3 separate regions of the Homo sapiens genome follow, and regions 1 and 3 are each linked to region 2. Evidence: fine-mapped expression QTL. A gene starts in region 2. Each other region holds a variant in brackets. All regions are shown on one strand. Distances are between the middles of the regions. Region 1 has its middle 26 kb from the start of ATP6V0A4. Region 2 holds the start of KIAA1549. Region 3 overlaps KIAA1549.

What was found. PIP is the estimated chance that this variant, and not a neighbour inherited with it, causes the effect.
Region 1: its variant is the best candidate, but not a certain one, in a credible set for the expression of KIAA1549 in nucleus accumbens (GTEx, PIP 0.86).
Region 3: its variant is the best candidate, but not a certain one, in a credible set for the expression of KIAA1549 in esophagus mucosa (GTEx, PIP 0.76).

The regions. Positions count from the first base shown.
Region 1 is chr7:138,818,488-138,829,163 of GRCh38, reverse strand. No RefSeq gene overlaps it. Among named protein-coding and RNA genes, the nearest start is that of ATP6V0A4, 26 kb to the right of the region's middle. RefSeq lists an enhancer at 6,730-7,284. The variant G/A (reference allele first, on the strand shown) is at 5,646.
Region 2 is chr7:138,978,424-138,989,099 of GRCh38, reverse strand. It overlaps KIAA1549, which reads left to right and starts at 7,711. Exons shown (of 20, transcript NM_001164665.2): 1 at 7,711-8,017. The coding sequence starts at 7,831. RefSeq lists enhancers at 6,934-7,283, 7,906-8,792 and silencers at 7,264-7,393, 7,414-7,793, 7,834-7,963, 8,803-9,097.
Region 3 is chr7:138,951,029-138,961,704 of GRCh38, reverse strand. All of the region lies in intron 1 of KIAA1549, which reads left to right. Among named protein-coding and RNA genes, the nearest start is that of KIAA1549, 25 kb to the left of the region's middle. The variant G/A (reference allele first, on the strand shown) is at 6,150.

The DNA.
Region 1 (10,676 bases), 160 kb after region 2:
ATATGCTCTGAATGTAAATAGGTTTGAAATGACAGAAGAGCAGGGAGTTACTAGAAACAGCTAAGACTTACAAGAAAGGGCAGGCTGATCCCACGCTCAGAGCCTGAACCCCCAGTTCAAATGAATATAACCAGGCGCGGTGGCTCACACCTGTAATCCCAGCACTTTGGAAGGACGAGGCAGGCGGATCACGTGAGTTCGGGAGTTCGAGACCAGCCTGACCAACATGGAGAAACCCGTCTCTACTAAAAAATACAAAATTAGCCGGGTTTGGTGGCACGCGCCTGTAATCCCAGCTACTCAGGAGGCTGAGGCAGGAGAGTCGCTTGAACCCAGGAGGTGGAGGTTGCAGTGAGCCGAGATCATGCCATTGCACTTCAGCCTGGGTGACAAGAATGAAACTCTGTCTCAAAAATAAATAAATGAATAGGGATTTGAGTCATAATTGGCATTTCTTGTCCCTCTGTCCTCTTCCTCTCTGCACCTGCCAAGCAGAGCTTAAGGTAAGAAGAAAAGAATAACAAGAACAGAGATCCTTTTGTTCAGTTTCTAAGTTAGATTATTAATGAAAAGTTCTCATCGGATAGTGCCCTATTAAGTAACTTTCTCCCTCTACAGAACTCGGTACTTTCCTTGCCACACCCTTCTGCACATCCTGGAATAAATGGGGGTGGGTGAGTTTGATTTCTCTACTGCTGAAGACTTGAAAAATTGTAGCCACAAATCTAGGTAAACCACATTTGTGTAGCTGAACTATTATTTGTTGTATTTGTGCCAAAGTATAGCATTACAGAAGTGTAAGACACAGAACCTATCTGGAAAACTCATAAAGCTGTTTCTGAGTGCCTGATTGGTAGCTGGTTCCATCAGTATCTTGAAAATATGCGTTAGTTTAAGTACAGGTATACCCTGGAGATACTGGAAATTCGGTTCCAGACCACTGCAGTAAAGCAGGTCACGAACTTTGTGATTTCCCACTGTATACAGAAGCTATGTGTAGCTATACTGTAGCCTATTAGGTATGCAACAGCATTCTGTTTTTTTAAAAAAGCATACATGCCCTGATTTAAAAATACTTTGTTGTTAAAAAAATGTTAACAATTATTTGAGCCTTCAGTGAGTCCTAATGTTTTTGCTGGTGGAGGGTCTTGCCTCCATGTTGATGGCTGCTGACTGATCAGGGTGGTGGTTGGTGAAGGTTTGGGTGGCTGTGATAATTTCTTTTAAAATAGAACAACAATGAAGTTTGCCACTTCCGTGGACACTTTCTTTGACGGAAGATGTCTCTGCAGCATGTAATGCTGTTTGATAGCATTTGACCCACAGTAAAACTTCCTCCAAAATTGAAGTTAATCCTCCCAAACTCTGTCACTTCTTTATCAACTAGGCTTATGGGATAGTCTACGTCCTCTGTTGTCATTTCACTGATGTTCACAGCATCTTCATCAGGCCTAGATTCCATCTCAAAAAACCACTGTCTTTATTCATCCATAAGAAACAACTCCTCAACTGTTTAGGTTTGACCATGAGACTGCAGCAGTTCAGTCACATCTGTAGGCTCCACTGCTAGTGCCCTTGCTATTTCCACTCCATCTGCAGTGACTTCCTCCACCAAAGTCTTGAACTCCTCATCCGTGAGGATTGGAATCACTTCTTCCAAAGCCCTATAAATGTTGATATTTTAACCTCCTCCCATGAATTACGAACGTTCTTTTTTTTTTTTTTTTTTTTTGAGAGGGAGTTTCACTCTTGTTGCCCAGGCTGGAGTGCAGTGGCGCGATCTTGGCTCACTACAACCTCTGCCTCCTGGGTTCAAGCAATTCTCCTGCCTCAGCCTCCTGAGTAACTGGAATTACAGGCATGAGCCACCACGCCTGCCCGGCTAATTTTGTATTTTTAGGAGAGATGGGGTTTCTCCATGTTGGCCAGTCTGGTCTCTAATGCCCGACCTCAGGTGATCCGCCCACCTCGTCCTCCCAAAGTGCTGGGATTACAGGTGTGAACCATGGCGCCTGGCTAATTATGAATGTCCTTAATGGCATCTAGAGTGAGGAATCATTTCCAGAAGGGTTTCGATTGACTTTGCCCGGATCCATCAGGGGAGTCACTATCTATGGCAGCTATAGCCTATAGCCTTATGAATTTTTTTTTTTTTTTTTTTAGACAGGGTCTCATTCTGTCACCCAGGCTGGAGTGCAGTGGTACGATTGCTGCTTACTGCAACCTCCACCTCCCAGGCTCAAGCGATCCTCCCACCTCAGTCTTCCCAGTAGCTGGGACTATAGGAGCGTGCAACCATACCCAGCTAATTTTTTTTTTTGTATTTTTTGTAGAAACAGGGTTTTGCCATGTTGCCCAGACTGGTCTCGAACTCCTGACCTCAAGCAATCCGACTGCCTCAGCTTCCCAAAGTGTTGGGATTACAGGCATGAGCCACTATGCCTGGCCTGAAATGTATTTCTTAATAAGACTTGAAAGTCGAAATTACTCCTTGATTGATGGGCTGCAGAATGGATATTGTGTTACATATGAAAACAACATTAATCTCTTTGTACATCTCCATCAGAGCTCTTGGGTGACTAGTTGCACCGTCAATGAGCAGTAATAGTTTGAAAGGGATCTTTTTTCTTAAACAGCAGGTCTCAACAGTAGGCTTAAAATATTCTTTAAACCATGCTATAACAGATGTGCTGTCATCCAGGTTTTGTTGTTCCATGTATGGAGCACAGGCAGAGTAGATTTAGCATAATTCTTAAGGGCCATAGGATTTTCAGAATGCTCAATGATCATTGGCTTCAACTTTAACTCACCAGCTGCATTCGCCCTAACAAGAGAGTCAGCCTGTCCTTTGAAGCTTTGAAGCCAGGCATTGACTTCTCCTTCTCCTCTCTTGCTATGAAAGTCCTAGATGGCATCTTCTTCAATAGAAGGCTATTTATCTACACTGAAAATCGGTTTTTTGTTTGTTTTTTTTTTTTGACACGGAGTCTCGCTGTGTCACCCAGGCTGGAGTGCAGTGACAATCTTGGCTCACTGCAACCTCCACCTCCCAGGTTCAAGCGATTCCCCTGTCTCAGCCTCCTGAGTAGCTGGGATTACAGGCATGCGCCACCATGCCTGACTAATTTTTTGTATTTTTAGTAGAGCCGGGGTTTCATCATGTTGGCCAGGCTGGTCTCGAACTCCTGACCTCAGGTGATCCACCCGCCTCAGCCTCCCAAAGTGCAGACATTACAGGCATGAGGCACCATGCCCAGCCTGAAAATCTGTTCTCTACTGTAGCCACCTTCGTCAGTTATCTTAGTTAGATCTTACGGTTAACTTGCTGCAGCTTCTAAGTCAGCACTTGCTGCTTTACTTTTTTATGTTATAGAGATGGCTTCTTCCCTTAAACCTCATGAACCAACCTCTGCTGGCTTCAAACCTTTCTTCAGCTTCCTCACCTCTCTCAGCCTTCATAGAATTAGAGAGCACCTTGCTCTGTATTAGACTTTGGCTGAAGGGAATGTTGTGGCCAGACTGATCTTCTATCCAGACCACTCAAACTTTCTCCATATGAGCAATAAGGCTGTTTCGCTTTCTTCTCCTTTGTGTGTTCACTACGGTAGCACTTTTCATTTCTTTTAAGAAGAACTTTTCCTTTGCGTTCACAACTTGGCTGTTTGGCACAAGAGGTTTAAACCGTGTCAGCTTTCAACGTGGCTTCCTCACCAGGCTTAATCACGTCTAGTTTATTTAAAGTGAGTGACGTGCACCTCTTTCTTTCACTTGAACACTTCAGAGGCCATCGCAGGGTCAGTAATTGGCCTAATTTCAATACTGTTGTGTCTCAGGGAATAGGGAGGCCTGGGGAGAGGCAGAGTGCGAGGGAACAGGTGGTTGGTGGAGCAGTCAGAACACACACAACATTTATTGTTCTTAAGTTCGTGGTGTTCTATGGGCATGGTTCATGGTGCCCCCAAACAGTAGTAACATCAAAGATCAAAGATCACGGGTCACCATAACAGATGATTAAAGAGTTTGAAATATTGCAAGAAGTACCAAAATGTGACTCAGAGACCTGAAGTGAGCAGATGCTGTTGGAAAAATAGCACCAAGCTAGTCATGGTGGCTCACGCCTATAATCCCAACACTTTGGGAGGCCAAGGTAGGAGGATCACTTGATCCCAGAAGATTGAGACCAGCCTGGGCAACATAGTGGGACCTGTCTCTAAAAATATTAAAAAATTAGCCAGGTGTGGTGACCCACGCCTGTAGTCCCAGCTACTCGGGGTGGCTGAGGAAGGAGGGATTGCTTGAGCCCAGGAGATCAAGGCTGCAGTGAGTCAAGATTGCACCACTGCACTCCAGCCTAGCTGACAGAGTGAGACCCTATCTCAAAAAAAAAAAAAAAAAAAAAAAAGACAGAAAAATAGCACGAATAAACTTGCTTAGAGTTGCCACAAATCTTTGATTTGTAAAAAACACAATATCTGTAAATCACAATGAAGTGAAGCACAATCAAACGAGGTATGTCTGTATATGGATTTTCATTCTGGGATATAGTATTAGAATATACCCCAGATCAGTAGTTCCTTTCATTAAGCATTTTAAAATTCTGAGATTGTTTCAAAGAAAATGTTAGTGCAAGAAGTTAGGAGAAAAACAGGGCTTAAAAGGTAAAATGGGGCCGGGCGTGGTTAATCCCAGCACTTTGAGAGGCTGAGGTGGTTGGATCACCTGAGGTCAGGAGTTTGAGAGCAGCCTGGCCAACATGGTGAAACCCCGTCTCTACTAAAAATACAAAAATTAGCTGGGCATGGTGGAGGGCACCTGTAATCCCAGTTACTTGGGAGGCTGAGGCAGGAGAATCGCTTGAACCCAGGAGGCAGATGTTGCAGTGAGCTGAGATTGTGCCATTGCACTCCAGCCTGGGCAACAGCAGCAAAACTCTATCTCAAAAAAAAAAAAAAAAAAAAAGTCAAACAGGGTTCCTGCATTTCAGAACAAATGAGTGTTGGTCTTTTTTTCCAACAGTAGCTCTGCACTGTGGCTGCTTTTGAAGAGCAGCAGGGATGTTCTATATTTAGCAGAATCCAGAAGTAGCTATTCCCCTTGGATCCTCCCAAAGCTGTAAATGAGAGACAAGAGTGATCGCTACCTAGATTGGAAGTCCGAGAACCAGTGTGTGCTTGGGTCTTGGTATTACTTTTCCCAGATATTGTTCTTTCTGGGTTCCTAGTGAGACAAGTTTAATATACAAATTAGGAGTAAAGTTAAATTTTTTAAAAATTTTGGAAAGATATAATTAGGCCAAATTTAAATTAGAACATCACTAATTTAAATGTGGCCTAATTATATCTTTTTTTTTTTTTTTTTTTTTTGAGACAGAGTCTCACTCTGTCACCTAGGCTGGAGAACAGTGATGTGATCTCAGCTCACTGCAACCTCTGCCTCCTGGGTTCAAGTGATTCTCCTGCCTCAGCCTCCTGAGTAGCTGGGACTACAGGCACCCACCACCATGCCCAGCTAATTTTTGTATTTTTAGTAGAGATGGAGTTTCACCATGTTGGCCAGGCTGGTCTCAAACTCCTGACCTCAGGTGATCCACCCGCCTCGGCCTCCCAAAGTACTGGGATCACAGGTGCAAGCCACCGGGCCCAGCC[G/A]AATTATGTCTTTTTAAAGCCTATTCACTTAACTTTTTTTGTTCTTCCTTTCCTGGTCAAAATGTGAATTAGCAAAAATAAAAGAAATAAAAACCTGTATAACTCTACCACCAGAGACACTGGCATCAAAATTTTGGTAAATTTTGGTCTTTTTAAAATAATAAATAAATAAATAAATAAATAAATAAATAAATAAATAAATAATCCCAGCATTTTGAGAGGCCGAGGCGGGTGGATTGCTTGAGCCCAGGAGTTCGAGACCAACCTGGGCAACATGGCGAGACCATATCTCTACTAAAAAATATATAAAAAATTAGCCAGGTGTGTTGGTGCACATCTGTGGTCCCAGCTACTTGGGAGGCTAAGATAGGCTGAGAATTGCTTGAGCCTGGGAAGTGGAGGCTGCAATGAGCCAGAATTACATCACTGCACTTCAGCCTGGACAACAGAGCAAGACCCTGTCTCAAAAAAAGTTAAAGGCTGGGTGCCGTGGATCATGCCTGTAATCCTGGCACTTTGGGAGGCAGAGGCAGGCAGATCACTTGGGCCCAGGAGTTTGAGACCAGCCTGGGCAACGTAGCGAAAACCCATCTCTACAAAAAATACAAAAATTAGCTGAGTGTGGTGGTGCACGTCTGTAGTCCGAGCTACTCAGGAGGCTGAGGTGGGAGGATCACTTAAACCAGGGAGACAGAGGTTGTAGTGAGCTGAGATCATGCCACTGTAATCCAGCCTGGGCAACAGAGTGAGACCCTGTCTCAAAAACAAAAAAATTTTTAAATAACAAATAAATCTAAGCCAACTTAATGTTGTTTGGCGATCGGGACGGATGGGGATGATTTTCTTTCTAATTGACCTTCTGGTAAGCTATTGGTTTGGATTCCAGAGTACACAAGGGCAGAGGGTGGCAATAAAAGGATAAGAATTTGTGTGAGATGCAATCCGGAAAGAAAGATCAGAAGATATTCTGGGGCTCTCCAGCAGCCATTTTTCTAACTGCTGGAGGGAAATGGCACCCAGCAGCTAGAGCATCCTAGGGAGTCCCACCCTTTTGTGCCTATCCTGTGCTCTAGTTGACAGGCAATGCCCCACTGACCTCCTGATACAGTTCATGGAATTTTGCAGAGGTTTCCCAGGTTTGTGGCTGAGATGAGAACTTCGTGACTAGGCAAGCCGGGTCCAGAAAGTGACCCTTGGTTTTGAGCCTTTGTCTTTAATGCTGGACAACGGTGAGACTTAGCTCACAAGCTGCATTTTTAGGGACCCTTGTGAAAAACATCTGTATCGATGTCTTTTCCTTGACTGCAGGACTCTCTTTAACTGCTATCCAGGTGAACCTATCAACTCCTCATAAGGCATTTCCTGCCACGGCTGGTGTCCCGCTGTGACTCCCCCAGCCACCGATCAGACAGGAATGAACCAGAAGTAGCTTACCAACTATGAGGTTGGTGCAAAAGTAATTGCGGTGTCATCATTACTTTTAGTGGCAAAAACTGCAATTACTTGGCACCAGTCTAATATTTCTGTGTTGGGGCTCAGGAAACAATACCCCAAAATATGGCACTCTGACATGCTGACCTGAAGAAGAGGTCTCGAGTTCTCTCTGACCCCGCTGCCTCCTGTCTCTCCATCCTCTGTCTCTCCCGAAATACAGGATGAAGTTGTTCTCTGAGGTTCCCTTATCTGCCTAACATCTGGACTTACAAAAAAGAGAAAAGTGACCTCTGGTCCCTTCCCTGAGGTCTTGTTAACTGAACTCATATCGCAGGAAGAAAGACTAAGTCTGTCAATGCAACTGGACAGACTTTTGTCACAAATCATTGTCTGCTCCGCAGGCACAACAGACTTTGTCTCAGGTCATTGTATGTTCTTCAAGCCCATTGAATTCCCTTACAAATCATTTACTATCCCCCAAAATGGCCCGCGCTTCCCCGTCTCCCTTTCCTCTAAGAAGAAGGGTCTAGAACCATTTGTACCCATCGTGTGGTGTGGCAATCACTGAGTAATTTTCCTCCCCCGTGCATGCTAATCAGTTTGTGCGCCATTACCCTTAATAATCTGCATTTTGTCCGTTGATTTTTCAGTGAACCATCAGAGGGCAAAGGGTAAGTTTCCGCTTGACCCAGACATGTGCAAGGCCGAAAGTATGCTTTCGCCTGTGACAAAGTCCTCCACACTTCAATCCCTATCAGGATAATTAAGGTTTCACCTTCTGATGTAACTGGCCCCTGAACCTCAGAAGCTGGGGTAAGTATCTGCATACTTGTCACATCTTTGTGTTCAGAGTTAACTGAATTTTCAGATGTCTCACAATTTTAGAAAGATTGTGATGGATGGCAAAATCAGAATTCAAAATGGTATTGACAGGCTAAAACACAGAGCCAAAAATCAAGAAAATTTTATTTAATCCTATTAAAGTTCTAGGTTAAAAAAAAAATCTGGGGCATGGCGTGGTGGCTCACGCCTGTAATTCCAACACTTTGGGAAGCCAAGGCGGGCAGATCACGAGGTCAGGAGTTTGAGACCAGCCTGACCAACATGGTGAAACCCTGTCTCTACTAAAAATACAAAAATTAACTGGGCATGGTGGAGGGCACCTGTAATCCCAGCTACTTGGGAGGCTGAGGCAGGAGAATGGCTTGAACCTGGGAGGCGGAGGTTGCAGTGAGCTGAGATCGTGCCACTGCTCTCCAGCCTGGGCGACAGAGCGAGACTCCATCTCAAAAAAAAAAAAAAAAAAAAAAAAATTCTGGCTAGGCACAGTGGCTCAGGCCTGTAATACCAGCACCGTGGGAGGCCGAGGCGGGTAGATTGGCTGAGGTCAGGAGTTCGAGACCAGCCTGGCCAACATGGCAAAACCCCGTCTCTACTAAAAATACAAAAATTAGTCAGGCTTGATGGTGGGTGCCTGTAATCCCAGCTACTCGGGAGGCTGAGGCAGGAGAATCACTTGAATCCAGGAGGTGGAGGTTGCAGTGAGCTGAGATTGTGCTACTGCAGTCCAGCCTGGGCGACACAGAGTGACTCCATCTCAAAAAAAAAAAAAAAAAAAGAGAGAGAGAGCTCCCAGAATTGTATGTGCTAATGGGAGTGATCCATGGAGTGGGGGAGGTTATGGATAATGCAAAAGACAAAGGAGAAAGTGAGAGGAATTGGGATTCAGAGCATAGTGGGGGAACTCGCCTTCAGATGGGGAAACAGGCCTTCAGAAGAACAAGAGTATTTCTCTATTGTGCAAAGGAGGGAAAGCATAGGACACAGGCCAAGATTCAGGTCACTCTGTTGATGTGCAAAAATTGGCAACCTTTTTGGTTCTGGAAAAAAATAGTTCCCAGTGAATATGTTACCATTTCTTTAGATTTATAAGCCTTGGGATTTTTTTAGTAGGTAGCAGAAACATTATTTCACAGCAAATTGTTTAATTTTGTGCTTTTTAAGAGATAACTCTGTTTCATTTTCCATGGCAAATAAGATACATTCAGAGTAATGGTGTCTGTTATTTGGTGTAACATAATGATTGAGTAACATGGTATTATTTATTCTTTTAAATTTGTTAGCGTATGTTTTATGGCCTAGAATATGGTCTGTCTTATGAATTTTCCATGTGAGCCTGAGAATCATGGGTATTCTGCTGTTGCTGGATAAAGTGTTTCATAAATGTCAATTAGATCCAGTTGATTGATGGTGCTGTTCAGTCCAACTATGTCCTTACTGATTTTCTGCCTGTGGATCTGTCAGTTAATGAAAGCGCAGTGTTGAAGTCTGCAGCTCTAATAGTGGATTAGTCTATTTCTCCTTGCAGTTTTATCAGTTTTTGCCTCACACATTTTGATGTTCCGTTGTTAGTTGCATGCACATTAAGGATTGTTATGTCTTCTTGGAGAACTGGTCTCTTTATCATTATATAATGGCTGTCTTCATCCTTGATAAATTTCCTTGCTCTGAAGTCTGCTGGTCTGAAATGAATATAGCTACTCCAGTTTTCTTTTGGTTAGTGTTAGCATGGTATATCTTTTCGTCATCCTTTACTTTTAAGCTATCTGTCTTTATAGTTAAAGTATGTTTCTTGTAGACAACATATAGTTGTCTTGTTTTTTTTTTGGTCACTCATATAGTTTCTGTCTTTTAATTGATATATTTATACCATACAAATTTAAAGTGATTATTTATTTGGTTGAATTAATGTCTGCTATATTTGTTATTATTTTCTATTCGTTATCTTGTCCTTTGTTTCTCTTTTTGGGGGATCCTCACTTTTCTGCTTTCTCTGGTTTATCGGCATTTTATTTATTTTTATTTATTTATTTATTTTTGAGACAGAGTCTTGCTTTGTCACCCAGGCTGGAGTGCAGTGGCACAATCTTGGCTCGCAGCAACCTCTGCCTCCTGGGTTCAAGAGATTCTCCAGCCTTAGCCTTCCAAATAGCTGGGATTATAGGAGCGCGCCACCACGCCCGGCTACTTTTTGTATAGTTTTTTAGTGGAGATGGGGTTTCACCATGTTGGCCAGGCTGGTTTCGACCTCCTGTCCTCAAGTGATCCTCCAGCCTTGGCCTCCCAAAGTGCTGGGATTGCAGGCATGAGCCACTGTGCCCAGCCTTGAGCATTTTATATCATACTATTTCCTCCTCTCTCTTCGCATATCAATTATACTTTTTTAAAACTTTTTTCTGCACTAAAGTTTGCAATGAACGTTTATGACTAATCTAAGTCTAATTGCAAATGACACTAGACTGCTTTATGGGCATCCAAGCCCTTTACACATCAGATGGAAACCCAGAAGACATGGTGATGTTTAATTCACAATTAACCCCACCCCAAACACACATGTGCCGACCCAGACATAGAGCTTCCCCGCTAGTGTCGCCCAAAGTTACTATGCAACTTACTCAAACTAATGGGTTGTGCAACCTAAATGCTTTGTAACTGAAAACACCCCTCTACCAGGGTCAAAGATGAAGAGTCCATTAAAAACAAAAAATTAGAAAGAAATAAAATTGAGTGGTGTGGTTTTGCTAGAATGTTTTAAAA
Region 2 (10,676 bases):
GTGTATTAATCACAGGTAAGATTATTGTAATCAGGTGTATGATTATATGGAGCAAAAAGTGAATTTTCCCCTTCATACATTCACTTCCCAACTCCTCTCTAAACTTGATTTCCTTTCCCAGTAGTAACGACTGTTTACACTCATACTTTTTTAAAAAGTGGGTTTACAATCACAATCCCACTTTTTTTTCATTAGTGGGATTATACTATACAGTATCTTACTCCCCCATGCCCATGTAATATGTGAGTCTTCCATGGAAGAGAATACAAAGTCTAGAAATAAATCCACACATACCTAGTCAATTAATTTTGAGAAAATATAAAGTCAATTAAATGGCAAAAGGATAGTCTGCAACAAATGGTGCTATAACAACTAGACATCACACCCACAAAATTAACTTCAACCCTTTAATCTCACAAAATACATCAAAGTTGACTCAAATGGATCATAGACTGAAACATAAGAGCTAAAACATTAAGTTTCTGGATAGAAACATGAGAGAAAATATTTGTGACCTCGAGCTAGGCAAATATTTTTTAGGACACAAAAAACATGAAACAAAAAAGAAAAAAATAATAAAAAAGTGTATTTCACCAAAGTTAAAAACCTCTTCTCTTTGAATATCTTAAGAGAATGAAAAGACAAGTTATGGACTAGGAGAAAACATTTGCAAAACACACATCGGATAAAAGATTTGTATTTAGAATACATAAATATACAATTTGGTAAGATTTGAACAGACATGCCACCAAAGAAGACATATTGATTGCAAATAAACACATGGAGAGTGTTCAATATCATTAGTCATGAGGACAAGGCAGATTAAGTGCACAATGAGATATCATTAGACACTTGCTAGAATGGTTCAAATTAAAAAGGCTAACAAAATCAAGTGCTAACAAGGGTATGGAACAACTAGACCTTTCATACATTGCTGGTGGGGATCTAAAATATATCCCACCTGGGAAGACAGTTGGGCAGTTTAAATTTACATTTATCACGCCACCCAGTTAAATTTACATTTATCACATGACTTAGCAGATCTACTCCTAGGTATTTACCCAAGAGAAATGAAAACATATGTTCACACAAAATACCTGAAAACAAATGTTTTTAGCAGCATTATTAATAATGACCAAAAACCTGGAAACAATCCAAATGTTCATCAGTTGGTGACTGGACAAATTGTGGTATATCCATTCAATGGAATACTACTAAGCAATAGAAAGGAACAAGTTACTGACGCATGCAACAACTTGGATGAATCTCAGACATTATGCTAAGTAAAAGAAACCAGACACAAAGTGCTACATACTATATAATTCCATTTATGTCAAATGCTGGAAAAGGCAAAGCTGTAGAAACAGAAATCAGATCAGTGGCTGTCAGAGGGAGGGTATGGGATAGACTGCAAGCTGGCACAAGGGAACTTTAAGGGCAATGTAAATGTTCTTTACCTTGAATGTGGTGGTGGTTATAGGATTTCATAGAATTGTTGAAACTCACTGAACATTTTTAAAAGGTGAATTTTCATCAAACTGCTTATGATTGTGGATAGCTTTGTTCTTTGCTTCTTGTGTTTTTCAGTTTCCTGAATTGTACATATTAACTTTTAAAAAATAAAGATTATTTTTAAAACCTGAAAAAAAAAAGGCGAACTTTTATTTATTTATTTATTTATTTTTTGAGACAGAGTCTCGCTCTGTCACCAGGCTGGAGTGCAATGATGTGATCTCTGCTCACTGCAACCTTCGCCTTCCGGGTTCAAGCTATTTTCCTGCCTCAGCCTCCCGACTAGTTGGGATTACAGGCACGCACCACCACACCTGGCTAATTTTTGTATTTTTAGTAGAGACGGGGTTTTGCCAGGTTGGTCAGGCTGGTCTCAAACTCCTGACCTCGTGATCCACCCATCCTGGCCTCCCAAAGTGCTAGGATTACAGGCATGAGCCACCACGCCTGGCCAAAAAAGGTGAATTTTATCTGATTAAATTACCTGACTAAATTTGCCAGCTGAATTAAACTTGACTTGAAAAAAAAAAAAGGAAAAGGAAGTGAGCTGATTTTATATTTTGATAGATAAGGTCAAATTATCCTCCAAAATGGCTACACCAGTAGAATTCGAGAGTGCCTATTTTGCTATACACTTGAATATACAAATGAATATAATCAAAATTTTAAAAGTTTTGTCTGTTTGATGGTGAAAAATATTTTGATCCTTGATATTCATGCAGCAGCATTAAGATCTTGTTCTGGCTAGGTGCAGTGGCTCACGCCTGTAATCCCAGCACTTTAGGAGGCCGAGGCAGGCGGATCTCGAGGTCAAGAGATGAAGACCAGCCTGGCCAACATGGTGAAAACCCGCCTCTACTAAAAATACAAAAAAATTAGCTGGGCGTGGTGATGTGCGCCTGCCGTCCCAGCTACTCGGGAGGCTGAGGCAGGAGAATCGCTTGAACCGGGGAGGTAGAGGTTGCAGTGAGCATAGATTGCGTCACTGCATTCCAGCCTGGTGACAGAGCTAGACTCCATCTCAAAAAAAAAAAAAAAAAAAAAATCTTGTTTTAATTGGTCTCCTCTTTAGTCTTTTCTCTTTCCAAATCATCTTATATAATGTTAATAGAGTAATCCTTCTTGTGCTTAGTTCTAATAATATCTGAACAAATCTTTAATGATCCACCGTCACCTACAAAATTAAGTCCAAACCCTTCAGCCAGATCTTTAAGCTCTCCTTGTTCTATATCAGCTTCCCTTTTCTCTCTTCTCTGCTGCGCCTCTCTAGGTCTGGTATGTCTTACCACTTTCAGTAAGTGATTATAAAGTCTCACTCTTAGACATCTAGCTCAATGGTTCTTACACACTGGAATCCTGGGAAGCTTTTAAAAGACAGGGCTGTCCAAGCCTGGTCTGCAGAGATTTGGATTTTACTGGTCTGAAGTGTGGCCTGGGGGTGTTCTGTTTTGTTTTGTTTGTGGTGTCCAGGTGATTTTAATTTGCAGTCAGCATTGTGAACCACTGCTCTAGCTGATCTGGCCATCAGCTAGATAAATTTCATGCATTCCTGCCTTTATATTTTTGTACTGTTGGTTCCCTCCACCTGGAACACCTGTCCTGTTCTCTTTAGCTGTCCAAGTCCTCTTCATTTTTTAGGCGCCCCCTAACACCCAGCTTCCATGCAACACTACACTGAAGCTTTGCTTGATCTCTTGTGCCAAATATGATTTCTACTTCTTTGAACTTTTTTTTATAACTTCCTTCGGACATCTGTCATGTTCTACTTTGCAATATGTAGGTTTTTAAAATTTGTTTTTTTTTTTCCCGTAAGACTGTAAGCTCCTTGAAAAAACTGTAGACAATTATTATTTTTTTTTTTTTTGAGGCAGGGTCTAGCTCTGTTGCCCAGGCTGAAGTGCACTGGCATGATCACGGCTCACTGCAGCCTTGACCTCCTCAGGCTCAGGTGATCCTCCCACCTCAGCCTCTCGGGTGGCTGGGACTACAGGTGCACGCCACCATGCCTAGCTAATGTTTTGGATTTCTTCATAGAGATGGGAGTCTCACCATGTCGCCCAGGCTGGTCTCAAACTCCTGGGCTCAAGCAATCCACCTGCCTCAGCCTCCCAAAGTGCTAGAATTACAGACGTGAGCCACTGTGCCCGGCCTAATTAATCTTACTGATCATTTAGCACATGACTCTACGGGGCGCTTACTTAGTAGGGACTCAGTAAATATTTTTTGAATGTTTATTCTGGCTACTTCTCCACTTTGCACAGTTGTTCCCTCTGCCTGACACCCTCTTCCCCAGCTATCCCCATGGCCCAATGTCACCTTAGTAGGGTGATCATCCCTGACTATTCTATTTAACACAGTAACACTGACCCTTCCCTCACTCCTTTTCCCTCTTTGTTATTCTGCAAATTGTTGTCATCAGCCGAAGGCTCACTTACTGATTGCCTGTCTCCTCTCACTAGAACATAAGTTCCACGAGGAAGGGCCTTTGTTTTGTTCACCGTTATACCTCCAGTGCCCACTGCACTGCCTGGCATATGGTACATGCTCAAAAAATATTCATTGAATTTAATGAATGACCTTTGTGAACATTCATCTTATTTTGTATAATTCTCTTAAGAACCGAACCCACAGCTAAGCAAGGTAGGCATGTGAAGCCCATCATCAGATAAGAACATTTGAGGTTTGAGAGTAGGGTGAAGCATTTTGTTCAAGTTCATAAACTTTTCTGTGACAGAGCAGAACGCAGAACTCAGCTGTCCTGATTCCTATTCTAGGACTCTCACACTACCCTCTACCGACTTCCAGCCATCCTCTAACTTCAGTCCCTCTGTCCCATCCTTATCCAGACCCTAAGAATTGAGGGGCCCAGGTCAAGAGTGCAAATAGGGGCTCACGCAGCCCATTTCACATTTGGCCATTTTGGCCATTTCACATCGATGACCAGATTTTCATCAGCAAGTTACATGCCAAGCAAGCAAACTATTAAATATGTCTGTTCTACCTTAACAAACGTATGTCTTCAGAATGGTTAGGCTGGTTCACAGGCAGGATTCGCAGACTTCCTGCAGTTGTGAGCAGAACATCGCAGCCAGGTTGCCATGTGAATATGGGCCATGCCCGATCTTCTCTTCCCATCCCTGGTCCTCTGCTTCATTCCTATAGGTTTCATGTGCGCATCTTTAGAGATGCCTCCTGCGTAAGTTTTGCCACTCCCTAGCAAACAACTACCCCGTGGGACCAGACACACCCTTGGTGCAGCCTTGGGAGAATGGACTTGAGGAAGAGGCCACATAGGCCTGAAGATGAGCCTGGGGTGAAATGGGCAGGATTCTGGGGTCCTGGGCACCTGAGCATGGGAAGATGGGCTGCTGGTGAGGGTGCTTCCTGGGCTTCACAGACTCTGTCCTGAGGAGAGAGGTGCAGTTTGAGAAGGCCAGAGTGGGGCCCGCTTCGTCTAGGTCTAAGGATAGTACTGAGCCTACCTCTCCCTGTCTCCAAACCAGATTGTAAGCCTATCGAGGACCCAGGTTAATTTTCCCCCTCCCCTGGAGGGTGTGTGGTTTAACTGGAGACGACAATTCCAGTTGGAGTTGAGCCTTATGGAAATAAACTAACCTCTCTGGCTTGTTTCTTTATCTATGAGAATTGGATGAGATGATCTCTAAAATCGATTTTAAAATCTTACACACACACACACATTTGCACACACTCCCCTACCTCCAAGGACCACTCATCCCCTCTGAGTCTGCAGAGTAACACCACCTACCAGCTGGACTGTCAGAGCCTGGTAGACATTTTCCCAGACATGGAGGCAGAATGCCTTAAATCCTAACAGAGGTAAGATTTTGTTTTATGCCTTCAGAGCTGGGAGACTAAGGGACCCTAGGGACCTCACTTTCCACGGACACTTTGGTGTCCATGAGTCATTTCTAGTATCTCAGGGTTCCAATTTTTATTTTTACTTCCAGCTGATCAATCTCTTAATGGCAGGGCAAACACTATTGTCTTTGAGTTTGCAGAGAATGGAGAAGGAGACTCCTTTCTTTTTTCTTTTCCTTTTTTTTTTTTTTTTTTTTTTGAGATGGAGTCTTGCTGTGGCACCCAGGCTGGAGTGCAGTGGCGTGATCTTGGTTTACTGTAACCTCCGCCTCCTGGGTTCAAGTGATCCTCCTGCCTCAGCCTCCTGAGTAGCTGGGATTACAAGCACGTGCCACCATGCCTGGGTAAATTTTTCTGTGTTTTTATTAGAGACGGGGTTTGCCATGTTGGCCAGGCTGGTCTTGAACTCCTGACCTCAGGTGATCTGCCTGCCTTGGCCTCCCAAAGTGCTGGGATTATAGGCGTGAGCCACCGCGCATGGCCGAGGGAGGCTTTTTTCTCTGACACCAACGGGTCTAGTGTAGATGGCAGCTTGCAGGAGGCTGAGGCCAAATCTGAAGATGGAACCTCTTCACGGGCGGAATGCATGCTCTGGCTCAAACCAACGATTGTCTACTGAGGGCTTACTGGGGCTATGAGAAATCCTAAGCAGGATAGCACCATATTTGAATTTCATATTAATTTATTGGAGGTGGGGTGGGGGCTGTGTGTGCAAAGCATAAATTCATAAAAGATAAAACAACACAACAGGACAAGACCATTCAAGAGTTGCACGAAGGCAGTGGTTTGTGGTCAAATGTGCTGTTATAGAGAGTTCAGAGAATAAAGATAAGTGTGTGAATAAGAGGTCCCAGATCTATGGCCATGGTGTCCTGGGACCAGACATATCTGGGCAGTTTCTCTTAGGTACTTACCTGGGTGTGCACGCAGAACCCTCTTTGGGAGACAGGAGCAGTTACTGTAATAAACATAGGGGCTGTATGATGGGGGGTTACAATAACGTGTAAAAACACCAGGAACATCAACAAAAGCTTTTTTTAACCTTTATTCTCATTTTCCTTGAAACTACCAGGTTTCAAGTACCCACCTGTAAGGACCAGGTGTGTACCTACAGAAGAGTGCCCCTGTCCTATTCTTAGGAAGAACTATTCGCCAAGGGCAAGGAGTCCAGAAGAGTTGGAGCTGCAAGGCTGGGCAGCCCCTTCAAGGGCTGGGCCTGGCAGGGGAACCCGACTGAATAGCCGCGAGGATCCCTCTGCCAGTGTAATGATTCACCTTTTCCGCTGTCTGCCATAGTTTTTCTGCACGAGATAGTGTCCCCCACACACACCGTTAATATCTGCTTGATGCAACAATGCCAGTGGGATGCAACGATTCAAAACTTCCAATTCCTCCTCCCTAGACCCTGAAGCCACGGGGCGTCTTCAGAGTGACGTGCCTGGCACACAGTAGGTACTTGACAGATGTCAACTCCCTTCTTCCCGTTCCTCATTCCCCCCGCGGACTCCAACCCTCAAACGCTCTCTGGGCATTCTCTCCACCTCTCAGGAGCGCCACTTTCCCTAAAACGGCCTGGCCTTGCGGGTCTCCCCAGCTCCACGCCCATTCGCTTCAGCAGCCGCCTGCTCAAGGCCTGCTAAGTGCAGGGTCCCGCGGGCCTCCCAGGCCCTGAGCGCAGGGTCGCTTCCCGAAGACCCGCAGAGGTGGCCGCACCTTCTTAAGGCAGGAAGGCGGGGGAGAGCTGCGTGCGCTCTGCTCGCCCCTGCCTTGCACGCTGAGCTCTAGCGCAGGAGCCCGACTTTGTCTGGCTTTGTCCCCTCCGCGGCCCCGAGGCTGTCCTGAGAGCGCGGCGCCCCACACACCTGCTGCCCGCAAGGAGTCGGCGGGAGAGGAGGAGCGAGGGAGGCGAGAGGACCCCTCCCCCGGCTTGCCGGCCTACCCTGATCCGGGCGCCCCGGGGAACGCGCGGCGGGACCCGGGGTTGGGTGCGGGTCGGGGCGGCACCGCCCGGCCCAGGCCCCCCGAGCCCCTCGCGCTCCCTCCGGAAGGCGGGTCCTGGGGGAGGGCTGGGCCGCGCCGCCTCGCCGCCCTTGCCGCCTCTGCCGCGCCGAGCCCCGCGCACGCTGCCCCGGCCGCCCCGCAGGCAGGCAGGCAGGCAGGCAGGCAGGCGTCCGGCCGGCCGGGAGGGGGTGCTCGCCGTCCCGCGCCCGGGCCCGCGCGTTGCCGGGCAGCGGCTCCGAGGCTCCGAAGGGGGCGGAGCGGCAAGGCGGGCGTGCGGCTGGCGCCCCTGTCCTCGGTTCCGGCCCGGCCCGCCCCCGCCTCTCCGGCCTCCCTCCGCGCCGGTGCGCGGCGCCCCGTCCCAGCCGCAGCCGCAGCGGCCGCCCCTCCCGGACCCGAGAGCCGCTGAGCCGCGAGGCCGGGCCGGGGCGCCGGCCGGGAATGCCGGGGGCGCGGCGCCGACGCCGAGGCGCGGCCATGGAGGGGAAGCCCCGCGCCGGGGTCGCGCTGGCCCCGGGGCCGAGCGGCCGACGGCCTTCCGCCCGCTGCGCCCGCCGCCGCCGCCCGGGGCTGCTGCTTCCTGGCCTCTGGCTGCTGCTGCTGGCCCGGCCGGCCTCGTGCGCCCCAGGTAAGCTCCGCCGAGACCCTCGGAACGCGGCCGCGACCCCGCCTGCCTTTATCGCTGCTGTTTTCAAAACCCCGGCTTTCCCCGCCCATCCTCTTTTATTCTCCAGCTCCCTCGCCGTCCTTTCTGGAAGATGCTTTGCCATTCTTCTGGGGCCCAACAAATAAAGGCACGGGGGAAATAAATAATTAAAACGAACAAGCGAGCGGCTTCTGGCCGGTCTTGCTAAGGGGTCTGCAAAGCTGTTCTCTTGTCCATGGAACCCGAAGCGGGTCTGGTGGCTTCATCTCAGAATGTGCCTGGTTTTTCCTGCAGAATGCAGGCACCGGCGTGCTTTTTTGTCAAGGCTGTATGATGTGGCATATCGAATGTTTTGAGATACTTTATTGTCGGGGCGAAGAGGTGGATTCGAGGTGTGCTTTAAAAGAGTATTGCATTACCGGGACAAGCCCAGCGTCCCCCAGATGCGGGCAGGCCGGCCGTGTCCCCCCGTACAGCAGGACACAAAGAACATTCAAAGAAAACCTCTTGGAAAGCGCCCTGGCCACGGATCTTTCCAGGGAAATAGCTATTGGTATTACTTCTGCAAGGCATTATTAGTACAATGGAGTGTGAAAATATTTTGATTCTTAAGTGTCTGGGCATGAAAGGAGTAAGGGCTGTTTTTATAACAGATGCAATTTAGTGACTGTTCATCAGTATGGAATGAAGAGGCATGATTTATGAAGAAGCATAAGGGTTTTGTTGTGGAAGAAATGATTTAATTCCTATTGCTTCTCCAAAATGTTTATTTGTCCACCCTGAGCCTGTACACAGGATGGTCTGGAAACCGTCTCTGAGCTGACACTGCAGGCCAGCGATTGCCCCTGCACAGGCACTTGACCACTTTGAGGCGGAAAAGGAAAGGTGGAAGGAGCAGCTAGGGGTGGAGAGCTGCTGCACACAGAACAAAAACCAGAAAGCCGTGAACGCTGCTCCGAATCCTCCTTTCTCGTGGGAGCAGGGCCAAAGGGCTACTCAGTGGCTGGGAGGAATTGGAACACATTTGAAGGTGTCCCTTGGACCTGTGAGAATTATAACCAGTGCCCTAGAGGGGATGGTACAATAGAAGCACAGGGAGGACTTCAGGGATCATGGAACAGGTCCACTCTGCTTACCAAAGAGGAAACTAAGGCAGAGAAGTGCCTTGCTCAAGGTCACAGTCATCACTTTCCCTGCCTCCCACCCCCGCTCTTGGCCCATAGACATATCCACACCTGAAGCCTCTGCAGAGATTTCCCATAGCTGGGTGGAACCAGGGTTGGGGTGACAGAATGAGTCTCTTTTAGGCAGTATACAGCTAGTGCAAACACCTTACTCTAACCTAGGACCTCCCGTCTCAGTCCTGCTCCTGCGAGTTCCAGCCCTGTGTGTCCAGAGGAGAAGAGATCATTGTCAAGGGTCTCTTGGCTTTAGTCAACAAAGAGAGCCCATCTGATACTCGTGGATTCATCTGTCATAAGACACAGCAGATAAATGGTTTCCATCTCCTGAGTGCTTTTTGTGTGCCAGATGTTGAATTTTATATACACGATCCAATCACGTTGTGAGTTAGGCATAGTTATCCCCATTTTACAGATGAGGAAACTAAGGCTTTGAGTTTAGGTTGGTTTGGCTTCAGACTCTATGACATGCTTCCTTTCTGTGCCTGATGGCTTCCCCATATGAATGTGGCCATCTGGGTGTACTGCAGAGGTTGTGGAGAATATAAGTGCTTCTGGTAACTTTAAAATAAATAGTGAAGCTGTTTGCACTGCCCATCCCTAACCTTCTCTTCTTTGGAAGTCCTTTCCTGCTTCCCCTCTACCCCCAATACAAATATTCAACCTGGAGACATGAAATTAATAATATTTCCATTCTAGACCTGACATCATGGAAAGAGACTTCATCCTTTCACTGGTTTGTATATTGGCTTCAGCCGCTGCCAGGCTCATAGACTAGGAACTAAGAAGTGGAGGGCACAGCCCCTGTGCTCCAGGATCCAGCTGGAAACACAGAGCAGTGAAGGAAGTACAAACCCTTGCACAGACCATTCCCGGACAGGAAAGGCAGGATTCCTTATGGATGACCTGCTGGAGGTGACCCCATCTACTTGAAGACTGTGAGGAACGATCTTGGTGGAGGGTGGCTTCCTGATGTAGCTAGGGTGTGTGTAGGGTGCCTGGGCGGTGCTGTTGATCCTGGGAAGAGGGTGCGTTGCAGTTGCTTGGGCTGCCCTCCCAGTCCTGAGTGTGGTATTTTCACCAGGAGATTTGGAATGTAGGAGAGCTTTGCTGAACACTGCTGTGGTGGTTGGTTCTCTTTCTAAGGAATAAGCAGTGGTAGTCAGAAAATGGCATGGCTTAGACCTGTTTTGGACTTCCTATGTGAGGCAGCATTCCCTTCCGTGGCTGTCTGAAAGCTATCTCCTCCTTCAGCTGGCTTCTCTTGTTAACTTTTGTTCAATAGAGTCCACCTTCCAGGTGGTCCCCTTATTACAGTCTTTGGTTAAATCTCTATGTTAAATCGATTTCTTGTCTATTTGTATTTCATTCAGCATTTTGAGTGTGTTTTTTTAAAAAAAAAATTTACAAGTTTGGTCTTAACCATTGACTGTTGTGGAAACAACTTGTAATGCTTTGGA
Region 3 (10,676 bases), 27 kb after region 2:
GTGCCTGGTCGCATTTTTCTTTTTGATAGTGGCATCATCATCACTTAAGTGAGATGGGGCAGGAGCAGGTCAGGTTCCATGAAAAAAGTAGTTTATAATTATAGTATCTGTGGATCACAGAAGAAGGAATAGAGCAGGAAGCTGTGAAAGGATTGTTGAGTGGGCCAGGCCTGGAGGAGGTGAGGACCTTTTGTGTACAGCAGCAGCCTCCCGTGGTCCCTGTGGGGGGTGATAGCCTCGTGGCAGGGTAGGGAAAGCGCATCATGGGGCCGATCCCAAAGCAGCTCTCTCAGCCCACGGTAGGAGCCTAATAGATCTATTTTCTGCCCAGCTGCTGTGTTTGCCTCAGTCTCACAATGCTTCCCCCAGTAGCTTTCAAAATGCAGCATTTCCGTCATAGACTTCAAAAGAAGAACGCCAAGATCTCCTGGCATGGAGCCCTCCTATGTACTTTGACCTTTAATTGGGTGCCTTCCAAGTGCCAAACTTCAAGTCTTGAGACTGCTCCGAGGACAACAGGAGCAACTTAGAATGGGGTTTTAACCTCCCAGTGTGTGCCTAGAGGAGACCCCACTCTTTGGTGGGCAAGAGGTTGTGGGCATTGGCCGTCACCCGGATCCAAGTGCAGGACAGATGGCTCCTGCTCCTTGGCTGTGCTGTCCGATGGCCTGCAAGGGGCCCTTCTGTCAGAACTGCACAGGGAGAGGTTATGAGGGCATGGGGGAAAGACACATTTAGTGTCCCATTCATCTCTTTTCATGTCCCTTATTGTGTGGAGTTTGCAGTGCTTTTAGAATTTCCCAGCATTCTTATCATTTATGTTCCTGGAGACTTTGCTTCATAATAGTTTGATCTCTTTGGAAAATCCGGAAGACACCACCGCTTGTGTTTCTAGTCCTACAGGGCATTAGAAAGCGTTTCTTGAGAAAAGCACGTGCAATATGGAGAGAGCAGTTTTACTCTCTGGCCGCAGATACGCTTCTGTGAGGTGCCTGCCGTGGCAGCCTGGGCTCCAGCCTGGGGTGTCTGGGAGGTTCAGCCCTTTGCTGGTGTTGGAAACACTGTAGCATGTATTTAAAATTTTTTTATTTTTGTGGCTGGTCACAGTGGCTCATGCCTGTAATCCCAGCATTTTTGGAGGCCGAGGCAGGTGGATCACCTGAGGTTAGGAGTTCGAGACCAGCCTGGCCAACATGGTGAAACCCTGTCTCTACTAAAAGTACAAAAAATTAGCCAGGCATAGTGGCGGGTGCCTGTAATCCCAGCTACTTGGGAGGCTGAGGCAGGAGAATCGCTTGAACCGGGGGGCAGAGGTTGCAGTGAGCCGAGATAGTGCCACTGCACTCCAGCCAGGATGATAGAGTGAGACACCATCTCAAAATAAATAAATAAATAAATAAATCAATAAATCAATAAAATAAAATTTATTTTTGTAGAGATGAGGTCTCACTATGTTGCCCAGGCTGGTCTCGAACTCCTGGCCTCAAGTGATCCTCCTGCCTCAGCCTCCCAAAGTGCTGGGATGACAGGTGTAAGCCACCATGCCCAGCCTCATGTATATTTTTTGACACAGTATTTACACTATCTCCTCTGCCACAGAGCTCCAGGGCACAAATTCTGTTTCTCCTGGACCTCAGTGGCCCGGTCAGCCTTTGACCAATTGGAGTTGGGCTGTCACTCTAATTCCTGTTTGATTCACCCTATCTTGGAGTAATTTTTCGACACATTTCAGAGCTTGTTTGTGTTAAGGGACCAGTAGTCTCTCTTTTGCTCTCCAGTCCTGGGAACTGACCTGATCCCACATGGGTGTGACATTTGGAATTGAAAATTGTTAGTCCTTGAGAGCACTGTTTAAAGAGGGGTCGGGTCTGATTAAGAGGCACAGTTGCTCTCTGATCCTCACAAATGAAGTTAGGTTTACACCTTTTGGCCCAGTAGTTCAGCTCTTAGGAATGTATCAAGTTACACCTCTTTGACAGTTAAATCTACATAAATTTATAAAGGGATTTATGAATGGATCTTCTAATCCAGAAAAAGTAATGCTTCTAACTTAATGTAAATTTAAATAAATTTTAATTATGACCAAACTTCGCTGACATATTTCATGCTGAAATAATTGATAACCAACAGTCAGGGTTAAAAATGATCATAACAAAGATGACATTTTTCTCCATTCGTAAAATGCGCGTTAGGTTAATTGCAGGCTTTTTATGGGAAATAAACATAAAGACCCTTTGTCCTATGCAGGTTGGGCCTCTCTGCCATAAGCCCCCACTCCCTTTTCCTAATGATGGGAGCCCCGTTAGCGTCATCTTTTTATTCCACAATGTCCAGCACAATGTACTGCGTGAGAGATGGATGCATGAATATGTAGATAAATGGGACTTTCCCTAGTTGTGTATGGTCGTGATTTGTGGTGCTATTTAAGTCTTGATGTTTAGTTGATTGCCAAGAGGGAATGAATTAATGTATAGCAGATTTTTGGAGTTATATTAAGGTCATTTGTTTAAAAAAGGATGTATGAGAACTTTTGTCTCAGCACTTTGGGAGGCCGAGGCAGGTGGATTACTTGAAGTCAGGAGTTGGAGACCAGCTTGGCCAACATGGTGAAACCCCGTCTCTATTAAAAATATAAAAATCAACCAGGTGTGGTGGTGGGCGCCTGCAATCCCAGCTACTCGGGGGGCTGAGGCAGGAGAATCACTTGAATCTGGGAGGCGGATGTTGCAGTGAGCCGAGATTGTGCCACTGCACTCCAGCCTGGGTGACAGAGCAACACTCTATCTCAAAAACGAAACAAACTAAACAAAACAAAAAAAAAACCTTTGGGCTATAGTGCAAAAACAAATCTGTATATCTCGAATTGTGTAACTGGTACGTACCTGGACAGGAACAACTTCTGAATCATACTGGTTTGTTTGGATCATCTTGGATTGTTGCTGAGTGACCCTGAGGAAGTATTGCCGTCTACTGTTCGGGGTTGCTAGGAAGAAACCAGTCCTCTCTATACCAGGGAAGAAGAGTAGCTGATGTGAGACAGTGGGATAGTAATAAGCTAAACGAGGGGGAGAGAAAGAGATTTAAATGACAGTCCCAGGCAAGGCTGTCATCATGGGATGTAAGTGAGACTGTTAAGCTCCTGAGTCATAGAACTTTACAGCTGGGAAGTTATATAAATATTCATATATATGTCAGTTTCCACTTCTGTGGCCCTGACAAGATGCCTCAGGGCCTGCAGCTTGGGGATCCAGGCTGTAGGAGTTGAAGACTGTTCCTTTAGGGCATAGCCAACAGGATGAATTTCAGCCTTTTAATCATTCTGTTTGAGATTCAGATTTTGGGGAGAGAGCCTGGGGCTTGGGATAGTTGCCCGTCCCTTGGTCAGGAGAGAATGAGCATCGTGGGTGATGGTGGCACCTAGATCCGGTGCCATGGTGGAAGGAGTGTTCCCCAAGGCAAGACTGGGGTGGGCGTGGGCGCCAGGCAGGCTGAACCCGCAGATGGCCCCTCTTGTGGCCCGCGCATGTGGGTCACATGCCCACTTATGCTCAGCATACACACACAGGCACACGCATAATCATTAACGTGCATGTATCCAGAGGATAACAGTCGTGCAAAGACGAGGAAAGACAAATATGTATTCACAGACGTTGTCAAAGGAAAATTCAAAACGTAGATGCATGAGTACAAGCATATAGATTAATAGCAATATATGCAGAGATGCACATACAAGGAAATGCATGCATGAATACAGACACACTGACTCATGAGTATGCACCCATAGCGAAATGCACGGTTGCTTGGAGAGGAAGGAAGGCTGAGTAGAAGAAGTGGACAAAGAGAGAATAAGGGACAGTAGAGATGAGGTGGCAGCAAGTGACCCTGGGATACCAGTTGGGTCCATAGGTACATGTTTTTAGGAAAGTTGACTGGGTGCAGTGTCTCATGTCTGTAATCTCAGCACTTTGGGAGGCTGAGGTGGGCGGATCAGCTGCGGTCAGGAGTTTGAGACAAGCCTTGCTAACATGGTGAAACCCTGTCTCTACTAAAAATACAAGAATTAGCTGGGTGTCATGATGCGAACCTGTAGTCCCATCTACTCTGGAGGCTGAGGCAAGAGAATTGCTTGAACCTGGGAGGCAGAGGTTGCAGTGAGCTGAGACCATGCCGCTGTGCTCCAGCCTGGGCCAAACAGCGAGACTTCATCTCAAAAAGAAGAAGAGGAAGAAGAAGAAGAAGAAGAAGGAGAAGGAGGGGGAGGGGGAGGGGGAGGGGAAGAAGAATAAGAAGATAGTGGGCCAAGATTTAGGATTTGACTTTGGGTTTCTGTTTGTTCCCTTATTGCTGGGCCCTCGGCTCAGTTCCTTGCCAGTGTGTTCACTACATTCACTTGATTAGGACCATGTGGTGCCTCACATGGCAGTGTCTCTGGTTTGTTCAATCCTTGTTTTTCTTGATTTGCAACAGCCTCCTCCTCTCCCCTCTCCTACCTCATTGCCTGCCTCTCCTGTTAACCGTATTGCTCTGGCAGTATGGTCATTCCCCATATGGGGAACTGCGTTGAACTGTTTTATGCCCCTGTGCCTTTGCACATGCTGTTCTTTCTGCGTGGAATGCACTTCTCTTCCTCATTTGCTTGATTCTGTACTTCCCTCAGGAAGACTTCCAGAAATCCCAGAATGATTTGGATGCTCATTGCCCCTGTGCGTCCCTATTATAACTCTGACCACTGTGTTATGATTGTTCCTAACTAGTTTTTTGAGGACAGAGATTGTGCCTTAGCCCCTCCACCTGGCACTGGGCCTGGCAGAGAGTAGGCCCTCAATAAATATTTGTTAAATCACTAAGTGGGTGGGTGTGTAGGAAGGAATGCTTCTATGAGTTAACAATTAAATAGGTAAATGATCATATGAATGATTGAATAGATCAGAATTAATAGCAACTTGGTGTATTAGTCCGTTTTCACAGTGCTGATAAAGACATACCTGAGATTGGGTAATTTATAAAGAAAAAGAGGTTTAATGGACTCACAGTTCCATGTGGCTGAGGAGGCATCACAATCATGGCAGAAGGTGAGAGGCACGTCTTACATGGTGGCAGACAAGAGAGAATGAGAGCCAAGCGAAAGGGGTTTCCCCTTATAAAACCATCAGATCTCGTGAGACTTATTCACTACCACCAGAATAGTATGGAGGAAACCACCCCCACGATTCAATTATCTTCCACCAGATCCCTCCCACAACACATGGGAATTATGGGAGCTACAATTCAAGATGAGATTTGGGTGGGACACAGCCGAACCATATCACTTGGTGAATTCAGTACCGTGGCTTCTCCCTGGATTTGTAAGCTGCTTCATAAAGCTGGGCTTCTTTTTATCTTTCTCTTCCCCTTAGCTGCTTTCTCCTCCTGAATCCTAACTCAGAATGCCTTTTCACACCTTCTCTCCTTTCTTGAAGATCACCTGGAACTACATCTTCATTCCAGACCTGTTCCATGAACTAAATCCCTGTGGGTGATTAGCTGTCATTTTAAACCCAGTGCTGACTTTGGGAGGCTGAGGTGGGCGTGTCGCTTGAGGTCGGGAGTTCAAGACCAGCCTGGCCAACATAGTGAAAACCCGTCTCTACTAAAAATACAAAAATTAGCTGAGCTTGGTGGTGCACACCTGTAGTCCCACCTACTTGGGAAGCTGAGGCAGGAGAGTTGCCTCAACTCAGGAGGTGGAGGTTGCAGTGAGCCAAGATCGCACCACTGCACTCCAGCCTGGGTGACAGAAGCAAGACTCCGTCTCAAAACCCCACCCCCCAAAAAACAACCGTCAGTGCCTCAGTTCCCTGCATGTTGATTCCCTCTCTGTTGGGATAAAAAAAGTTTGTCTCTGATTATAAATGGTCCTCATTTGTAGGTACTTTGGAAAGTACAGAAGTATATTTAGTAGAAAATAATCATCTTTATTTCTGCCACCTAACAATAACTATTATATAAACAGTTTGATATGCATCTTCCTAGTGTTTCAAAATATGTATATGAGACTTTACTTTTTTCATAAAATGGGATCATGCTATGTATACAATTTGCATCTTGCAGTTTTCATTATATTGTAAACATTTTCATGCCATGATATACTTTCACCCTGCTGTGCCATC[G/A]TCACCACCATCCATCTCCACGACACTTTTCATCCTGCAAAATAGAACCTCTGTACCCATCAAGCAACTCCTCATTTCCCCTCTCCCCTATCCCCTGGCATCCACCCTTCTACTTTCTGTCTCTATGAATTTGACTCCTCTATGTACCTCCTGTAAATGGAATCATCTAGTATTTCTTTTTGTGCCTTTGCATAATGACCTCAAGCTTCACCTGTGTTGTAGTGTGTGTCAGAATTTCCTTCCTTTTTGAGGCTGAGTGATATTCCATTGTGTGTATGTGCCACCGTTTGTTTATTCATTCATCAGCCAGTGGACAGTTGGTGAGTTGCTTCTGCCTTTTGGCTATTGTGAATTACAGTGATTTATTTTTCACTTCTGTTTTTAATACCAGACTGTGGACAGTGGGGGTCAGGGACAGTGTTTGACTCACCTCAGTTTCCTCGAAATCTAGTGGTGTCTCTGGCACATAGTAGGACACTGATCGGTGTTTGAATGAAGACATGGCAGAGCCAGTAGAGGGTGCTTCAGAGGAGGGCTGTGTGTGCGGGGACTTAATCCGAGGCCTGCTGCTGTCTGTGGTGCCAGCAGCCTCTTGGGCGGTGTGGCTTGCTTGCCCCAGGATGTTACTGTCTCCCTGTCCCCCTTATCCTCAGCCCCTGGGTCCCCCTTCCAGATGCCCCTCACATCTGCTGCTTTTCTTTCCCTGCCTTCTCTTTGGTCCTCCCCACCTGATCTGAGATCATTCAGTTTCTTCTGCAGGACGGGAATCTTCCTGCAGTTCCTGCACAAGCACCCTTCTCTGGAAGCTTCAGTCACTCTGCACGGGCCAGGTACCTCTCCACGAGCGGCAGAGGCTTCCGTGAGCCTGGAGGGTGGTCTGAGACAACATCCGGAGGGGTGATCCAAGTGGAAAACTGCTTATGGCATTGTTGTGGGGGGAGGGGGGTGCCACGGAGGCAGAGGAATTACCTGACAGACGAGGAGGAACCAGACCATTTTTGGCCAGAGAACAGGAGCCTGAGGAGTTCTCCCAGGCTATCGTAGAGAGCCTGCGCTTTGGCAGGGGGTGGCTGTTAAGGATGCCAGCTTGTTAGATAAAATCCACACTGCTTAGTTTGGCAGTTCAGGTCTTCTGTAGTCTAACCCCAGTACCCACCCAATCTCCATCCTGTCCCTGCAGGAATGGCCCACAGTACGACTTAGCCATGCCCCGTGAGGCCTTCTGTTCTTTCTTTAGTATCTTACTCATGCTCTTTTCCCCAAAGGGAGTGCCTGCCCAGGTTCCCCAATTTTCTAAATTCTGGCCATGTCCAGAGCAAAGTTTAGCTCTTATTTTTACCAATAGAATTAAATTGCACGAATGCGCTCTGCTTCATATTCTTCTAGCAATTTCTGTCTACCATCGTATATTTATTTGCTGTTGTTAGAAGCCAATTTTTATTACTAATCTAACTTCTTGTGCGTATATCCTTTCTCCTTAAATAGCTTACTAGCCTAGCGCCTTGCTAGCATTTTGCACATAGAAATATGACTGTTGATTACTAAACATAATATTTCATTGAAACTAAGATACCATCAACAGTGTGATGCACCATTTATTTTCTGTACCTCTGAGAAAGATCATGAAGAAAAAATACTGCCATTTAAACCGTACGTACCAATAACTAGATTCACCCCGATTTCAGATATCTTAAAATGTGAAAGAACAGGTCTTAGAATGGATGAATCACAGTAGATATGAAATAAGTGCTTGTTTAGTTTATTTTATTGTGTATGTATTTGTATTGTATGGAAGATAGATGAGAAAATTTATAAACATGGCAAGAAAAGGCCTTAACATTTTATTACTTAAACATTTCCAATTAAATTCTTGTCGAGTCTCTGCTTGGGAATATGGATCACATAGCTTTCCCTTTTGAATTCAGCATATTTACTTGTAGTATGTATTCTTTCTTTAGGAAGCTTCCCTTGTTTTATTTCACCTGTTTTCTTTCATATTTTGTTTTTTCACTGTAGATTTACGCTTTTTTGTGTACTATTTTTCTGGCAGTGTTTTATATAGGAGGGATGACCCTTCTTAAAAATGTATCTTTTTATAATTGCTTATTTTTATCATTCCTTTTTCCTATTATTATTGTGCTTAAAAAGTAGAGATGAAGCTGCACTTATTTATTATTTACATTTTTTTGTTTTTGTTTTTGAGACAGAATCTTGCTCTGTTGTCTAGGCCGAAATGCAGTGGCCTGATTTCAGTTCACTGCAGCCTCCACCTCCCGGGTTTAAGTGATTCTTGTGCCTCAGCCTCCTGAGTAGCTTGGACTACAGGTGTGCACCACCATGCCTGGCTAATTTTTGTATTTTTAGTAGAGATGAGGTTTTACCATGTTGGCCAGGCTGGTCTCGAACTTCTGGCCTCAGGTGATCCACCTGCCTCGGCCTCCGAAAGTGCTGGGATTACAGGCATGAGCCACCGTGCCCAGCTACAGCTGCTTTTAAGACGAGTGATTCAGAACAGACTTTTGAAGCAACAAAATTTGATCACTTCTCATCTTAAAAGAGAGCTGACTCATTTGTCCTTACGGGTAAATCCATCACTTGGTGATAGGAGAATGGTGATAGGAGAATATTCTGAATATTCAGTCTAGACTCACTTGCTCCTTATTTGCCTCCAGGCCTCTCCTTGCCAGGCTTTCTCCTTACTGGATGTTATTTACCAAGGGTTTCCACTCATTAGGGGTGGTGATGCTTGTTTTAAAGGTCTTCTAGAACCTTCTAGATAGAACACCTCCTCAGGATCTGAAAATCTCAAGATATCACAAAGTAACAAGTAATCAGAGCCAGAGCTAGTGTCTCCAATGCCAAGTTGCATGAAAAATACATTTTTAGACTTGAGTATGCAACTTTTGTTAAAGATTCCTCATTAGGCGGTTATTGTATTAGCAGCTGGTTAGAACTTCGTGCCCTGGGAATTCACGTCAGCCCTTCACAGCTCCTACTGTGTAGAGATGAGTGACCTTTATGAACACCATTTGATATGCAGAGTCCTCACTTTATTCCTGGGAACTACATTTTTCCTGATTTTTACTGGCTGAGAAGAACAGGAACAAGAAAACATGTTTGTTTGTCTGTGCTCTCAAACTCATTTCCCCTTAGGGTTCCTGATTGTTAGAATACTGCTCTCTTGCCTTAGCCTGATTTCTTTGATGTGCCTCATCTTGTTTAGATCCAGAATCCCGGATTCTTATTTTTCTAGGCCATGTTATTAATAATTACACGAACAACTGGCATTGTTTTTGAAAGCTTTGCCACATGTCAGTCCAGTGGCTCTTGACCTTGTGCAGATTATAATCACCTGGGAAGTTTTGAAATCCCAGACCATCCTCAGCCACATTGAGTCAGAACCTCTGTGGGTGGATCCAGGCACGGGTAAAGTGCCGGGGGCTCTGACCTGCAGCTAGAGTTAGTGCCTTCCGTGCGTTCACCCGTGCAGTCCACGTAACCACCCTGTGTGTTCTTTTCCTCATTTTATAGATGGAATCACTGAGGGCAGGATTGGTTAACCCAGCATTCATGGAGATTCCAGTCCAGATTGTTCGATTCCAGAGGCGATTCTTTTAGTATTTCTTTAGTTAACGCACTGGAGCCAGACTATTTGTTAAAACCAAGCAGTTGCTTTCCGTAGTTTTTATAAAGGTAACTTTTTAATGGTCATTTATGAAGTGCTTTTAAATTCCTGGATGTTGCTTAGACATATGTATTATGTTCTTTTCTTGTATAGTTTTCTCATCATGATGTATAGAATTTCTGTTGGTTCAAGAGTATTTGCCCCATTAGCATTTTTATGAACTCAGATTGTCCCTGAGTGATCTTAGAGGAGTGACTGGTTAAGTTTTGGGTACTTTATAAAAATCTGTGCTCATTTTAAATCACTAGTTTTATGGGGAAAGCAGGTGTCGTCATCTGACAAGTGGGTTTATAGCTTAAGCCAGCACGATTGGGGAGCAGCTCACTGAACTGCAGAGACAGACATAGGCAGTGCCAGGGCCAGCCTGTGTAAGCAGACCATTCAGAGAGAACGTGCGGGGAGAGGATGGCAACTGTGCACTCAAGGAAACACCCAGGGAAGGGAAGGGAAAAGAAATAGTGGCAGGGTGGCAGCAGAGTCAAGGAGAAACTGTGCTAGGGAGAGAGGACCACTGATGTTTGAAGGTGAGAGAGATCTAAAGAAGTGGGAGAGGCGAAGACACGGGTGGAGGGAAGTGTCCGTGAACCCTGAATCCTGTGATGCCCTGTCCGGGATTCAGGTTCCTCCAGAGGGAGGATGCGGCTGGGCATGGTGGCTCATGCCTGTAATCCCAGCACTTTGGGAGGCTGAGGCAGGAGAATCGCTTGACCTGGAGAGGCGGAGGTTGCAGTGAGCCGAGATTGCACCACTGCATTCCAGCCTGTGCAAGGGAGTAAGACTCTTATCTCAAAACAAAACAAAACAAAACAAAAAAACCAGAAGAGAGGGTGCAAAGGATGGGG